Linked DNA regions of Homo sapiens: regions 2 and 3 are each linked to region 1. The links come from fine-mapping of genetic effects on gene expression. A gene starts in region 1. Each other region holds a variant in brackets. All regions are shown on one strand. Distances are from middle to middle. Region 1 holds the start of PHIP (PHIP subunit of CUL4-Ring ligase complex). Region 2 has its middle 78 kb from the start of IRAK1BP1. Region 3 has its middle 53 kb from the start of PHIP.

Evidence for each region. PIP is the estimated chance that this variant, and not a neighbour inherited with it, causes the effect. A credible set is the group of variants that fine-mapping cannot tell apart.
Region 2: its variant is the best candidate, but not a certain one, in a credible set for the expression of PHIP in esophagus mucosa (GTEx, PIP 0.69).
Region 3: its variant is the best candidate, but not a certain one, in a credible set for the expression of PHIP in lung (TOPMed, PIP 0.56).

The regions. Positions count from the first base shown.
Region 1 is chr6:79,075,368-79,080,906 of GRCh38, forward strand. PHIP (PHIP subunit of CUL4-Ring ligase complex) reads right to left here and starts at 2,887. Exons shown (of 40, transcript NM_017934.7): 1 at 2,662-2,887; 2 at 2,488-2,546; 3 at 2,333-2,362; 4 at 2,081-2,140. The coding sequence starts at 2,701. It overlaps LOC124901346 (a long non-coding RNA gene), which reads left to right. Exons shown (of 2, transcript XR_007059652.1): 2 at 1-1,899. RefSeq lists silencers at 1,606-2,105, 2,605-2,774, 2,905-3,144 and an enhancer at 3,265-3,314.
Region 2 is chr6:78,786,914-78,792,452 of GRCh38, forward strand. No RefSeq gene overlaps it. Among named protein-coding and RNA genes, the nearest start is that of IRAK1BP1, 78 kb to the right of the region's middle. The variant C/G (reference allele first, on the strand shown) is at 3,456.
Region 3 is chr6:79,128,716-79,134,254 of GRCh38, forward strand. No RefSeq gene overlaps it. Among named protein-coding and RNA genes, the nearest start is that of PHIP, 53 kb to the left of the region's middle. The variant C/T (reference allele first, on the strand shown) is at 2,704.

The sequences.
Region 1 (5,539 bases):
CCAAGTTCTAATAAGATTTCTAAACTGTCTGATGAGTATGCCAACGTTCCTGTTCTAGTAAGGAGAAAACTCCAAGCAAGAAAAACCACTTCCATTCAAAATAGGTGAATTTTGAGCATAATACATAGATAGAAAGAATGCTTACTGTATCTTAAATCTGCGATGCAGACTAGGGATAGAAATTCACTTTACTAATAATTCCTCCCCCCACCCTCCCCCCAAAAATTAAATTAACTCAAAATCAAAATTGATAGCTCATTTTTACTGAAAAAAAAAACAAAAAAACAAAATGATATTCCTACGAGGATTAGCCATTACCATAATTTAGCCAGATAACATTAAGCTGCTTCATTTAAAAAATGTAACATTACCAAAAGATTAAGAAAATGCAGCATTCCTCAGTGACTTAAGGTTTGTGGGTTTTTAAGAGATGCACAGATGTAAAAGCAGATGCAAAGACGAGTTTTGTAAAACCTGCCCCATCTTAAAAATGGAGTATTATAATCTTTGCGATAATTTTTTCAAATATCAAGGAAGACATGTAAATTCACTGAAGACTTCTATCAAGTATTTGTAAACCTAAAAATTAATTTCAAATTAGTAAATCTTGGAGTTTACTTCCAGCTCCATTCACTTTGGCCAAGAATTGAATGAAAGTAACCCAAATCACTCCTTGAAAATTAACACACGTTCAGTGTGAAAATGAATACACTAATACACTGTTAAATCTCCATTAGATGTATTAAACCTCAGTACCCTTGCTTATTTCAACAGCCTTGAGCGGTTATCAACATCTTATATTAAACCACAAGAGATTTATACACAAAAGTTAGGAAATACACTACATACCAAAAAAAGCGCCATTATAATCATGTCCTGCTTTCACCTCACAAAAGACACTCATTCTAAGCTCGCTGAAACTTCCTAGTCATTAGAGAAGTTCTGATGAAGTAACATTAGTAATCATAACTATCTCAAAACAGTTACAAAAGCCTCATAAAATCAACACACTACATAAATTTCAAAGGCTTGGTGGGTCCGGTGCGACTGCTTTAACTGCCCCACACACATATTCACACAACGAACCTGTATCAGTTTAGGAGAAAGTGTTACAGAAAATATAGCTCCTTTAAAGTAACTTCCAATCACAATACTGAAGTGATAAATCCACTTCTGAAAAGCAATTTTTAAAGATTCCTAAAATACTCATTTTGACAACCCACAAAATTAAGGTTTTTAAGCTATTAAACAAAATATGTCCCAATATAAACACAACTTTCATAGGCCAAGTTCCATCCCACAGTAAATATGTGGACAAAAATCAAAACTCTTCAGTGTACTCCAATAATAATTTTTAATTAAACGAGAGGCATACCATAAGAATTAAAAAAAGCCTACTAAACTTCTGGTTTTAGGGAATTACAGGCTTTACACTTCTGCAAAGATGTGTTTTAGTAAATGCAAGACGAAGCACTGACCAACTATCATCACACATCAGAATCCTTCCAACAAAAAACCCAGGACTGAATTTAAGGAAAACAAAATAAACGACAGAGGGGGAAAAAATAATGTCTTGCCACGGTACCGCAGCGGCTGGATAGCCTGCTTGTGAAATGCTAATGCCACTTCGGAGCAGTTAGTCACCAGCTATTGTGTAGGGCAGGAGAAAGCCGAGCCGGCCGCGCGTGCAGAGCGAGCAAGCGAACGAGCGAGCGCGCTCTCCCTCTTCGCGCCGCTCCCGCCGCCGCCGACTCTCGCGCGCCCCCGCGCCCGCACGGACGCGCGCGCCGGCCCCTCCTCCTCCGGCCTTGCACTGCACAACACTCATGACGTATCTTTATTTCTAGCACATTAACAAAATATCACAAATAAATTGTCCGCAGCCCCTGCGGCCCCGAAGTACGAGTACCCCCGGCCACTGGCCCCCGCAGACCCCGCGCCGGCCTCCCAACCCTCCCCATGGCCTTTGGAGCTTTCACGTTCTAGGGCCAAGTTTTTGTCTCTGTAAAAAATTGCGGGAAATTCAATTTTTATTCGACTCAGGGAAAAGTTTCTTTGCTCTGCGACGTGAATGTCTCACCAGATTCTGGTAGGTCCTGGGATGCTCCTTCCCGGTCCAGTCGGTGCGCCGGGGCAGCAGCTGCGGGGAGAGGACACCCCGTGAGCCCGGCCCCCGGCCCCTACCCGCCCGCTCCCCTCCCCCGCCCGCCCCGCGCCCCGGCGGGGACCCCGAGCCCCGCGCCCCGCGCCCTGCCGGCGGCGGCAGCGGCGGCGCAGCGGCCCAGAGGCGGCCGCGCGGCGGCGGGACGCGCCGGGCCGCCGCCGCCCTTACCTCCTTCTCGGCCACCTCGCGGATCAGCACCTGCAACAACAAAGCGGGGAGAGCTGAGCCCCGCGCCCCGGGCCGCGGCCCCGCCGCCGCCGCCTCCCTCCCCCACGCCCGCGAGCGGCGAGCGCCGGCCCGGCCCGCGCCGCGCGCCGCCGTACCTGAGCCGCCTGCTGACAGGGTCCATCTTCCAGGAACCGGGCGATGAGGAAGTAGAGCTCTGCGCGGGAGAGAGGGACGGGGAGACACACAGGCTGAGCGGTCGGGCGGCGGGGGGCGGGGGACCGCGGGCGGAATCGCCCGGTGCCAGCGGCCCCGGCAGCCCCCCGACTTACCCGATCGCAGCTCCGAGAGGCCTTTCCTCTCACAAGACATGTTTATGGGTCACTTCAGGGCCGCCGACGGGACACCCCGCCGCCGAGGGGAAGCGGGGACGGTGCCGCCGCCTGCCCTATAGCTGTCAGTGTGTGTTCACGAGCCGAGCTTCGGCTCCACCATTCAAGCAACGGCGGCGGAGGCGGAGGAGGAGGAGGAGGAAACAACAACTCTCAGGCAGCGACTACGGCCGTGGCCGCCTCCGCCGCGGATCCCTCCGCCGCAGAAAGGAGTCCGCCGCCTTCGCGGCCCAGGGCTCGGCCCCGGCTCTGGCCCGCGCCCCCGCCCCCCGGCGCTAAAAAAGGAGTGCCTCCGACCCCTCGTCCCCAGCGCTCCGCACGCGGCACAGTGAGACCCCCACCCGCTCCTCCCCGCAGGGCGTGCGATTTATTTATTTATTTCCAGTCGGAGAAGATGTCGGAGCCCAAGCCGCCGGTTGGCTGGAAGGCGCTTTCTCTGTGGAGGCCGATAGTGGCAGGGAGGGGGCCGGGGACGGTTCCGCGGAGGGATCTGACGCACACGGAGCCGCAGCACAGGCTCTATTCAGCGGCGCTGGCTGGAGCTGAGATGGAAGTTAGTTTCTATGTAGCAGAAATATGAAACAAATGAAGCAAAACTGCCCAGAGAGGGGAAATGCCCCAAGGATGGGTCTCACTCACGCGCGTACACAGACACACACGCAGAGAGCACTCTCACGCTGGGCAAGCTCGGGATCGCGCTACCCTTCCCGAGTTGAATGATAGTGTTTGGTTTCTGTCTCTTGCCATGTGCATGTGTATAAATGCTGCGGATTGGCATCTGTGTAAGTCTTGTCCTGCGTTATTTCTGCAGCCTATGCAAGTGTTGTGTAATTTATTGGAGTGCTGTATATTGCAATAGAGGTTTGGGCTGCTTTTTGTTAAGCACTTGCGTTTTGCAAACCCGTTATTTGCTGAAGCCACCTCTGCATATTTCTTTTATTACTGCCATTGCCTTTGGCGTACGTTTTTTAAATGTTTTTTATTGTTAAACGGGCAAAGCGAACTCTTGATTTGTACTTCAGATACTCTTTTTCCTTATTACAAAAAGGCTAGTGATGGCTAATTAGGTATTTGGAATTAAAGAACCTTAAAGCTTTTTTAAGTGTTTACGAGAAGGGAGAATGTAAACCTGAGGGAAAGGAAAGGACGCTAATATTCATGTCTAACTGATCTGGAGGTAATTTAGTGACAGATCGATAACCTGCCTAAGGATATTGAAAGAGTATACTACAGTTTAGCCAAGGTGAATAGTGATTAAATAATTTAAATAATCTGTGTATCTTGCAGTTGACTTCGTCATGCTAATTAATGGCTTCTAATTTGAGATGTAAACCATTCCTGTTTACAGTTAATCACGGGAAGACTTCTTGAAAACTGACGAAAAGGAGAAAAAAAAATCTTTCGTAAATTAGTATGTAATTACCGATTTTATATGCTAAATCATACATCTGTGTTTTGCTGATGAGGATAAGGGCCTTGTTTTTAAAAAAACGAATATGGGTGAAATTAATGGAAACAATAGAAAAAGCCATTTGTTAGAAAACAAGGACACCAAATGATATTTATCTCCAGATGATTTAAGCACTTTCCAAAAAGACTTGAGAGTTCAATATTTTTTAAGGATTGCATTTTAAAGGGAATTTGGATAGTCGTTCTTTTGTTAACATTTAACAAAAGATTCTCCTTAAAAATGTTAGATAATAAACTGCATTTTATGGGTCTGGTTTAAAAAGGTTATTTGTGGGGAAAGGACCAACAAGCTGTATTGTGGTTTTCTAGATTGTTTCCTCAAGCCTTGTAACCTCCTAGCTCCTTACATTCCTAGTGGGAAATACTTGCTGCAAATGCCTTGGGCTGCACTGTAAGCCCAAGTGTGCTGCACCAGTGTGATGCCCTATACTAAAACATCCAGAAATCATCATACATATGAGGAAGAAGAAATAAAGCCTCAAACCCTTTGGAATAATAGGATATAAAATTGCCTTTTGTAACTGAATCTTAAAAATGGAAGGTTACCATGACTTGTCCTATTGCAACCTGGTTATCAGAATAACTTATTTTTTTTAAGATAGCTATTCTCAAATACTGAACATATTTGCATCTTTAAAGACACTTTATTCTATTCAATTATAGGTAAAGTAGCCTATTTCTAGGTGGTTAGGCTTGAAAAGATAGACTGAAAAGATAGGAAATTTTGTATGCCTTTTTGCAAATTGTATTTACTTCTAAGACCGATGCTGTTTTAGCTTAACTTTTAAAAAAGTGTTCTTCAAATAATTGTAATATTTTACACGATCTTGAAGTTCTTCAAATAAACAGAGTTTAGAAACTAAAAATTATAGTGGGATTTTCTGGTTTTGAAGGCTTGGAATGTATGATTCTTACTAATAGATGTTTTATTCTTGTGATTGAAAATAAACCAAATTATGACATGGAATATAATATTACTCTGGGTAAAGTTTGTGATATATATCTTCTGTGTGTTTTGTAAACATAGAAAACTAGCATGATTATCTCATATATTCTTTTCATTTAGAAGCCACAAAAGCTTTCACCTAAATATGCTACTAGTACTTAGCTCCTTAAAAATTTTTTGGAAAATCCCCCTCTAAGTTTTCTAAACATGATGTTCCTGTCATTTTGATTGATTTTTGACAGTGTTTATATTTCTTTTTCAAATGTCCAATATGCAGATTGTTGTAACCTTCCCTTTGAACTATTGTCTGTTATAAGAAAATATACATTACCTGCTAAAAATTAAAACTTCCCTTCAGCCAAATAAACTATTTGTATTTAACAGTGGATATTGAATTGAATT
Region 2 (5,539 bases), 290 kb before region 1:
TCATCCATGTCCCTGCAAAGGACACGAACTCATTCTTTTTTATGGCTGCATAGTACTCCATTATGTATATATGACACATTTTCTTTATCCAGTCTAACATTGATAGGTATTTGGGTTGGTTCCAAGTCTTTGCTATTGTAAACAATGCTGCAATAAACATACATGTGCATGTGTCTTTATAGTAGAATGGTTTATAATCCTTTGGGTATATACCCAGTAATGGGGTTTCTGGATCAAATGGTATTTTTGCTCCTGAGTCCTTGAGGAATTGCCACACTGTCTTCCACAATGGTTGAACCAATTTACACTCCCACCAACATTGTAAAAGCGTTCCTAAGAAAATGATATTTTAAAATGCTATTTACAGTAGCCTAAAAACAATAATAAATGTAATGAAAACACTGAAAACTAAAAACCATTTCTCAAGAACATTTAAAGAAGATCTAAATAAATGAAGACAATTTAAATATATATGCTCTGGTCATGTATTTGAAGATTCAACATTATTAAACTATCAATAATTCCCCCAAATTAATCTGTATATCCAATTCAATCCTAACCAAAATCCCAAAAAAATCCATTTTAACTGTTGAACTCAGTTTACAATTTATATACAAATTCAAAGAATTTAGAATAGACAAAACAATTTTGAAAAACAACAAAGTTGTAGGATTTACACTCCCTGATTTCAAGATTTACTATAAAGCTATAGCGGTTTTTACAATGTGATCTTTGGCCAAGAATAGAGAAGTAAATCAATGGAACAAGATGAGGTCCAGCCATAAGCCCACCTATACATGGTCAATTGGTTTTCAACAAAAATACTAAGGCAATTTAAGAAAGAAAGATAATGTTAATAAATGGTCTGGAACAACTGAATCTCCATAAGAAAAAAAGAAGAATCTTGACCACTACCTCTTACCATGCTAAAAAAAAAAAGGGGGAGGCGGGTGAATATCTTCATGAGTGTGGAGTAAAGATTTGTTTACACTAGGCCAAAATATGTGTGTGTGTGTATATATATATATAAACTTTAATAAATTTTACTTCATCAAAATTAAAAACTATAACTATTCAAAAACACCATTATGAAAATGAAAAGGTGATCCACAGATTGGGAGGTAAATCTTTCCAAAACATGTATCTGACTAGTATTAAAGATATACAAAGAGTTCTGTATCAATCAGGGCTTGATTAATGAAACAGAACCACTAAGAGTCCCATACATATGTGTATGTATATATATATATATATATATATATATATATATATATATATATATATATGTATATAAACATATTTCATTATATGGATTTGATCTCATACATTTATGGGAGACTGTCTCTGTGAAACTGTTGTCTGTACATCTGATACTAGAGTCTGAGATCTGCTAATAAAGCAGTCAGGAAGAGAAATTAAATGCAATGTGAGAGAAGCAAGAAGAAACTCACCTATAAGGATGGGCTGAAATCTCCAAGGACAGACTGTACCAATCTCTCACCAACTTCAATCAAGCTTCCAACTTCAATGATTAGGGAGATGTATTAGTTTGCTAGAGTTGCCAGAGCAACACGATAAAAACTGGATAGCTTAAAATAGAAATTTATTGTCTTGGTTCTAGAGGCTAGAAATCTCAGATGAAGACATTAGCAGGGTTGGTTCCTCCTGAGAGCTGTGAGGGAGAACCTCTTCCATTCTTCTTGTTTAGCTTCTGGTGGTTTGCTGGCAATCTTTGGCATTCCTTGGTATCTGCTACATCACCCTAATCTCTTCCTTCATCTTCACATGGCATTCTCTGTGAATGTGTGTGTCTCTGTGTTCACATTGTCCCTTCTCAAAAGGACACCACTGTATTTGGATTAGGGCCCACTCTAATGACTCATTTTAACTTGATTACCTTTGTCTCTACAAAGACTCTATCTCTAAATAAGGTTACATTCCGGGGTACTGAAGGCTAGTATCCCAACATATATTTTTGGGGAGACACAAATTCAACTGACTACAGGAGATAAGTATGTACCTGGCCCAGGATTCAGCACAATGTAAAGAGGAAGTCTGGCTGGAGGAGCTATGAACTCAGATGCCACCTCATGCTCACAGGGTGACCAGCAAATTAGCAACAGTGTGTGTGAGCTGCAACAGTGCCACCTGCCTTGCTCCAGCTTTCCATGAATAAAAAGAAGATAGTTGCTGCTTTATGTCTGCATTCTAAATCCTGCACAAATTTTCAGGCTCAAAACAACCAGAGAGGGACATCCCAGAAAAAAGTAGTTCCAGTTTAGTTAAGGTGACACAATAGCAACTTCACCACAAACTCATACAACACAATGCAGACAAAATGCAATTTTCAAATGAATAAAAGGTTTAGATATACCTTTCACAATATGAGATACATAAATGGACAAGAAACACATTTAAAGGTGTTTATTCCCATTAGTCTTCAGGAAAGTGCAAATTAAAATCATAATGACATACTACTGAATATCCCCCAAATGGCTAACGTTAAAACAAAAACCGGGGCATATCAAATGTTGATTGCAATGAGTTTTTAAGTTATCTTGAAGCACATGAAAATACTTTACCCAGCCAATAGTATATTCTATCATTATGGTAATTCATAATGATGATGTACCTTTATATTTGATTCCTTTACCAACTAAAGTGGGCATAGCCACTTTCAAGGCATAACAATGGCTCCCCAAAATGTTCACATTCTAATCTCAGAACCTATGAATATGTTAGGTTACATGGTAAAGGGAAACTAAGGTTGCAGAGGAAATTGAAGTTGTTAATCAGCTGACCTTAAAATAGAGAGATTATCTTGGATTATCCAATGGGTCCAGTGTAATCACAAGGATCATTCAAAAAAGGGGGAAGCAGAAGAGGGAGTGTCAGAGAAAAACATATAACAACAAAAGTATCATCAAAGCTACATTGCTAGCTTTGAAGATGGAGGAATGAGACCCCAAATCAGTGAATGTGAGCAGGCTCTAGAAGCTGGAAAAGACAAGGAAACAGATTTTCTCCTAGTACAACCAGAAAGTAACACAGCCTGGTGGGCACCTTGATTTTAGCCCCAAGCAACTTGTGTTGGATTTCTGACCTACAAAACCATAAGATAATAAATTCGTGTTTTAAAGTGTGTAGTAATTTGTTACATCAGCCATTGGAAGTTAACACAAGTAGATACTATTAAGATTGTTTTACAGATAAAATAAAGCAGGGAAGTCCAGCATCTGGGCTATCACCAGTTGCTCACAGGGCCCAGACAGTCTACACCTTATGTTTCTGGGCTCTCACTCCATGATTCCTTCCACAGTGCCACCCAGCTTTCTCTGGGTGTGAGCAGGATCATGTCAGCAAATGACTCAAAGAAATTATGAGCAGTGAGACTCAGACATGGAACAGGTCTTAGCTTTCTGATAAGAAAGTCACGTACATCTCCACTCTCAAAA[C/G]TTCATGGATTTGAGCAGGGCACAGTGGCTCACACCTGTAATCCCAGCACTTTGGAAGGCCAAGTTAGGAGGATCACTTGAGGCCAGGAGTTGGAGACCAGCCTGGGAAACATAATTAGACCTAATCTCTGAGAAAAAAAAAATTAATTAGCTGGGGAAAGCTGGAATCATTCCCCTTGAAAACAAGCACAAGACAAGGATGACTCCTCTCACCACTCCTATTCAATATAGAATTGGAAGTCCTAGCCAGCACAACCAGGCAAGAGAGAGAGAGAAAAAGGGCATCTGAATAGGAAGAGAGAAAGTCAAACTATTCCTATTTGCAGATAACATAATCCTATTAACTAGAAAATCCCATAGTTTCAGCCCAAAAGCTTCTTGCTGATAAACAATTTCAGCAAAGTCTCAGGATATCAAAATCAGTGTACAAAAATCACTAGCATTTCTACACACAAACAACAGTCAAGCCAAGAGCCAAATCAGGAATGAACTCCCATTCACAATTGCCACAAAAAGAAGAAAATACCTAGGAATACAACTAGCTATGGAGGTGAAAGATCTCTATGAGGAGAACTATAAACCACTACTCAAAAAAATCAAACATGGCATAAACAATTGGAAAAATATTCCATGCTCATGGATAGGAAGAATCAATATTGTTAAAATAGCCATACCGCCCCAAGCAATTTATAAATTGAATGCTATTCCTATTAAACTACCAACGACATTCTTCACAGAACCAGAGAAAACGATCTTAAAATTCATATGAAACCAAAAAAGAGCCCAAATAGCCAAGGCATTCCTCAACAAAAAGGACAAAGCTGGAGGCATCACACTATCTGACTTCAAACTACTGTACCGGGCTACAGTCACAAAAGCAGCACGATACTGGTACAAAAACAGACACATAGACAAATGGAACAGAATAGAGAACCCAGAAATAAGACCATACACCAACTATTATCTGATCTTTGACAAATCTTACAAAAACAAGCAATGGGGAAAGGATTCCCTACTCAATAAATGGTGTTGGGAAAACTGGCTAGCCATAGGCAGAGGTTGAAACTGGTCCCCTTCCTAACACCTATATGAAAATTAACTCAAGATGAATTAAAGACTTAAATGTAAAACCCAAAAGTATAAAAACTCTGGAAGATAACCTAGGCAATAACATTCAGGATATAGGCACAGAGAAAGATTTCATGTCAAAGATGCCAAAACAATTGCAACAAAAACAAAAATTGACACATGGGATTTAATGAAACTAAAGAGCTTCTGAACATCAAAAGAAACTATCCACAGAGTAAACAGACAGCCTACAAAATGGGAGAAAATTTTTGCAAACCATGCATCCAAGAAAAGTCTAATATACAGCATCTATGAGGAACTTAAACAAATGTATAAGAAAGAAACAACACCATAAAAAGTAAGCAAAGGACATAAACAGACACTTTTCATAAAAAGACATACTTGTGGCCAACAACCATATGAAAAAAAGCTCAATATTACTGATCATTAAAGAAATGCAAATCAAAACCACAATGAGATACTATCTCACATCAGCCATAGTGACTATTAATTAAAAGTCAAAAAGTAACAGAAGCTGGCAAGGTTTGGGAGAAAAAGGAACACTTATATACTGTTAGTGGGAGTGTAAATTAGTTCAGCCATTGTGGAAGACAGTGTGGCAATTCCACAAAGACCTAAAGACAGAAATACGATTTGACCCAGCAATCCCATTAATGGGTATATACCCAAAGGAATATAAATATTATATTTATTTATATATATTATAAAGACACATGCACATATATGCTCATTGCAACACTATTCACAATAGCAAAGATGTGCAATCAACCTAAATGTCCATCAGTGAGAGACTGGATAAAGAAAATATGGTATATATACACCATGGAATACCATGCTGCCATAAAAAATAACAAGATCATGCTCTTTGCAGGAACATGGATGGAGCTGGAGGCCATTATCCTTAGCAAACTAACACAAGAATGGAAAAACAAATATCACATTGTCTCACTTATAAGTGGGAGCTAAATAAGGAGAACACATGGGCACATGGAGGA
Region 3 (5,539 bases), 53 kb after region 1:
AAGAATAGAGAAAAAGAAGGAAAATGAATAAACAAAATTTCCAAGAAATATGGGATTATGTGAGGATATCAAATTTGTGACTCACTGGTGTTCTTGAAAGAGATGGGGAGAATGAAACCAACTTGGAAAATGTACTTCAGGATACCATGCATGAGAACCTCCCTAACCTAGCTAGCAAGGCCAACATTCAAATTCAGGAAATGCAGAGAACCCCAGCAAGATACTTCACAAGAAGATCATCCCTAAGACACATAATCATGAAATTCTCCAAGGTCCAAAGGAAAGAAAAAATGTTAAAGGCAGCTAGAGAGAAAGGTCAGGACACCTACAAAGGGAAGCTCATCAGACTAATAGCAGACCTCTTAGCAGAAAACCTACAAGCCAGAAGCAATTAGGGGTCAATATTCAACATTCTTTTTATTTTTATTTTATTTTTTTAAAGATTTCCATGGGTTATTGGGCAACAGGCAGTGTTTGGTTACATGAGTAAGTTCTTTAGTGGTGATTTGTGAGATTTTGGTGCACCCGTCACCTGAGCAGTATACATGTCACCCAATTTGTAGTCTTTTATCCCTCAGTCCCTTCCCATGCTTTCCCCCGAGTCCCCAAAGTCCATTGTGTCATTCTTATGCCTTTGCATCCTGATAGCTTAGCTCCCACTTATGAGTAAGAAGATACGATATTTGGTTTTCTATTCCTGAGGTACTTTACTTACCATAATAGTTTCCAATCTCATCCAGGTCATTAATTCACTCCTTTTTATGGCTGAGTAGTATTTTATTTTATATATATATATATATATATATATATATATATATATATATATATATATATATATATCTATCTATCTCACAGTTTCTTTATCCACTTATTGACTGATGGGCATTTGGGTTGGTTCCACATTTTTGTGATTGCAAATTATGCTGCTATAAACATGTGTGTGCAAGTATCTTTTTCATATAATGACTTCTTTTCCTCTGGGCGGATACCCAGTAATGGGATTGCTGGATCAAATGGTAGTTCTACTTTTAGCTCTTTAAGGAATCTTCACACTGTTTTCCATAGTGGTTGTACTAGTTTACATTCCCACCAGCAGTGTAGAAGTGTTCCCTGTGGACTGCATCCACATCAACATCTATTATTTCTTTATTTTTTTATTATGGCCATTCTTGCAGGAATAAGGTGGTATCGCATTGTGGTTTTGACTTGCATTTCCCTGATCATTAGTGATGCTGAGCATTTTTTCATATGTTTTTTGGCCATTAATATATCTTCTTTCAAGAAATGTCTATTCATGTCCTTAGTCCACTTTTTAATGGGATTGTTTGCTTTTTTTCTTGCTAATTTGTTTGAACTTGTTATAGATTCTGGATATATTAGTCCTTTGTTGGATGTATAGATTGTGAAGATTTTCTCCCACTCTGTGGGTTGTGTGTTTTCTCTGCTAACTGTTCCTTTTGCCGTGCAAAGCTCTTTAGTTTAATTAAGTCACAGCTATTTATCTTTGTATTTATTGCTTTTGTTTTTGGGTTCCTGGTCATGAAAACTTGCCTAAGCCAATGTCTAGAAGGGTTTTTCCAATGTTATCTTCTTGAATTTTTATAGTTTCAGGTCTTAGATTTAAGTTCTTGATCCATCTTGAGTTGATTTTTGTATAAGGTGAGAGATGAAGATCCAGTTTCATTCTCCCACATGTGGCTTGCCAAGTATTCCAGCACCATTTGTTGAATAGAGTGTCCTTTCCCCATTTTATGTTTTTGTTTGCTTTGTCTAAGATCAGTTGGCTGTAAGTATTAGGGTTTATTTCTGGGTTCTCTATTCTGTTCCATTGGTCTATGTGCCTATTTTTATAGCAGTACCATACTTTTCAGTGACTATGACCTTACGGTACAGTTTGACATCAGATAATGTAATGACTCCAGATTTGTTCTTTTTCCTTAGTCTAGTTTTGGTTCTGTGGGCTTTTTTGGTTCTGTATGAATTTTAGAATTGTTTTTTCTAATTCTGTGAAGAATGATGGTGGTATTTTGATGGGAATTGCATTGAGTTTGTAGATTGCTTTTAGCAGTATGTTCATTTTCACAATATTGATTCTACCCATTCATGAGCATGGGATGATTTCTTTCAGCAGTGTTTCTTAGTTTTCCTTGTAGAGGTCTTTCACCTCCTTGGTTAGGTATATTCCTAAATATTTTATTTATTGCAGCTATTGTAAAAGACATTGAGTTCTTGATTTGATTCTCAGCTTGGTCACTGTTGGTGTATAGAGGAGCTACTGATTTATGTACATTAATTTTGTATCCAGAAACTTTGCTGAATTCTTTTATCAGTTCTCGGAGCTTTCTGGAGGATTCTTTAGGACCTTCTAGGTAAACAATTGTATCATCTGCAAACAGCGACAGTTTGACTTCCTCTTTACCCATTTGGATGCCCTTTATTTCTCTTGTCTGATTGCTCTGGCTAGGACTTCCAGTACTATGTTGAAGAGAAGTGGTGAGAGTGGGCATCCTTGTCTTGTTCCAGTTCTCAGAGGGAATGATTTCAACTTTTCCCCATTCAGTATGATGTTGACTTTGGGTTTGTCATAGATGGCTTTTATTATATTGAGGTATGTCCCTTGTATGTCAATTTTGCTGAGAGTTTTAATCATAAAGCCATGCTGGGTTTTGTTGAATGCTTTTTCTGCAGCTATTGAGATGATCA[C/T]GTGATTTTTGTTTTTGATTCTGTTTATGTGGTGTATCACATTTATTGACTTGCATATGTTAAACCATCCCTGCATCCCTGGTATGAAACCCACTTGATCATGGTGGATTATCTTTTTGATATGTGTTGGATTTGGTTAGCTAGCATTTTGTTAAGGATTTTAGCATTTATGTTATTAGGGATATTGGTCTGTAGTTTTCCTTTTTGGTTATGTCCTTTCCTGGTTTTGGTATTAGGGTGATACTGGCTTCGTAGAATAATTTGGGGAGGATTCCCTCTTTATCTTGTGGAATAGTGTCAATAGGATTGGTACCAATTCTTGGAATGTCTGGTAGAATTCTGCTGTGAATCCATCTGGTCCTGGATTTTTTTTGTTGGTAATTTTTTTTATTACCGTTTCAATCTCACTGCTTGTTATTTGTCTGTTCAGGGTATCTAATTCTTCCTGATTTAAGCAAGGAAGGTTGTATTTTTTTGAGGAATTTGTCCATCTCCTCTAGGTTTTCTAGTTTATGTTCATAATGGTGTTCATAGTAGCCTTGAATAATCTTTTGTATTTCTGTGGTGTCAGCTGTAATATCATCCGTTTCATTTCTAATTGAGCTTATTTGGATTTTCTCCCTTTTCTTGGTTAGTCTTGCTAATGGTCTGTCAATCTTATTTATCTTTTCAAAGAACCACCTTTTTTTCATTTTGTATTTTTGTTTGTTTGTTTTAGTTTCATTTAGTTCTGCTCTGATCTTGGTCATTTCCTTTTTTCTGCTTGGTTTGGGTTTGGCTTGTTCTTGTTTCTCTAGTTCCTTAAGGTGTGACCTTAGATTGTCTGAGCTCTTTCAGGCTTTTCGATGTAGGCATCTAGGGCTATGAACTTTCCTCTTAGCCCCGTCTTTGCTGTATTCCAGAGGTTTTGACAGGTTGTATCATGATTGTCGTTCAGTTTGAAGAACTTTTAAATTTCCATCGTGATTTCGTTTTTGAGCCAATGATCATTCAGGAGCAGGTTATTTAATTTCCATGTATTTGCATGGTTTTGAAGGTTCCTTGTGGAGTTGATTTCCAGTTTTATTCCACTGTGGTCTGAGAGAGTGCTTGATATAATTTCAATTTTCATAAATTTATTGAGACTTCTTTTGTGGCCTATTATATGGTCCATCTTGGAGAAAGTTCCATGCACTGTTGAATAGAATGTATATTATGTGTTTGTTGGGTAGAATGTTCTGTAAATATCTGGTAAGTCCATTTACTACAGGGTATAGTTTAAATCAATTGTTTCTTTGTTGACTTTCTGTCTTGATGAACTGTCTCATGCCATCAGTGGAGGATTGAAGTCTCCCACTATTATTGTGTTTCTGTCTATCTCATTTCTTAGGTCTCTTAGTAATTGTTTTATAAATTTGGGACCTCCAGTGTTAGGTGCATATATATTTAGGATTGTAATATTTTCCTGTCGGACAAGGCCTTTTATTATTATATAATGTCCCTCCTTGTCTTTTTTAACTGCTGTTGCTTTAAAATTTGTTTTATCTGCTAACACAGGAACAGAAAACCAAACACCGCATGTTCTCACTCATAAGTGGGAGTTGAACAATGAAAACACATGGACACAGGGAGGGGAACATCACACATCGGGGCCTGCCTGGGGGTGGGAAGCAAGGGGAGGGATAGCATTAGGAGAAATAGCTAATGTAGATGACAGGTTGATGGGTGCAGCAAAGCACCATGGCACATGTATACTTATGTAACAAACCTGCACATTCTGCACATGTGTCCCAGAACTTATAGTATAATAAAAAAAAACATGTTTTGTCTGATATAGGAATAGCTACTTCTGGTCGCTTTTGGTGTCCATTTGCATGGAATGACTTTTTCCATCCCTTTACCTTAAGTTTACGTGAATCCTTATGTGTTAGTTGTGTCTCTTGAAGGCAGCAGATCGTTGGTTGGTGAATTCTCATCCATTCTGCAATTTGTATCTTTTAAGTGGAACATTTAAGCCATTTATGTTCAATATTAGTATTGAGATGTGAGCTACCATTCCATTCATTGTGCTATTTGTTGCCTGTACCTTTTTTTAAATTGCATTTTTGTTTTATAGGTCCTGTTAGATTTATACTTTAAAGAGGTTCTGTTTTTATGCATTTCCAGGATTTGTTTCAAGATTTAGAGCTCCTTTTAGCAGTTCTTATAGTGCTGGCTTGGTGGTGGTGAATTCTCTCAGCATTTTTTTGTCTGAAAACAACTGTATCTTTCCTTCATTTGTGAAGCTTAGTTTCGCTGGAAATAAAACTCTTTGCTGATAATTGTTTCATTTGAGGAGGCTGAAGATAGGGTCCCAATTTCTTCTAGCTTGTAGGATTCTGCTGAGAAATCTGCTGTTAATCTGATAGGTTTTCTTTTTTAGGTTACCTGGCATTTTTGCCTCATAGCTTTTAAGATTCTTTCCTTTGTCTTAACTTTAGATAACCTGATGACAATGTGCCTAGGTGATTACCTTTTTGCGATGAATTTCCCAGGAGTTCTTTCAGCTTCTTGTATTTGGATATCTAGTTCTCTAGCAAGGCTGGGAAAGTTTTCCTCAATTACTCCCCCAAACATATTTTCCAAACTTTTAGGTTTCTTCTCTTCCTCAGGAATGTTGATTATTCTTAAGTTTGGTTGTTTAACCTAATCCCAGATTTCTTGGAGGCTTGGTTCATATTTTCTTATTCTTTTTTCTTTGTCAGATTGGGTTAATTCAAAAACCTTGTCTTTGAGCTCTGAAGTTTTCTCTTCTGCTTGTTCGATGCTATTGCTGAGACTTTCCAGAGCATTTTGCATTTCTATAAGTTTGTCCATT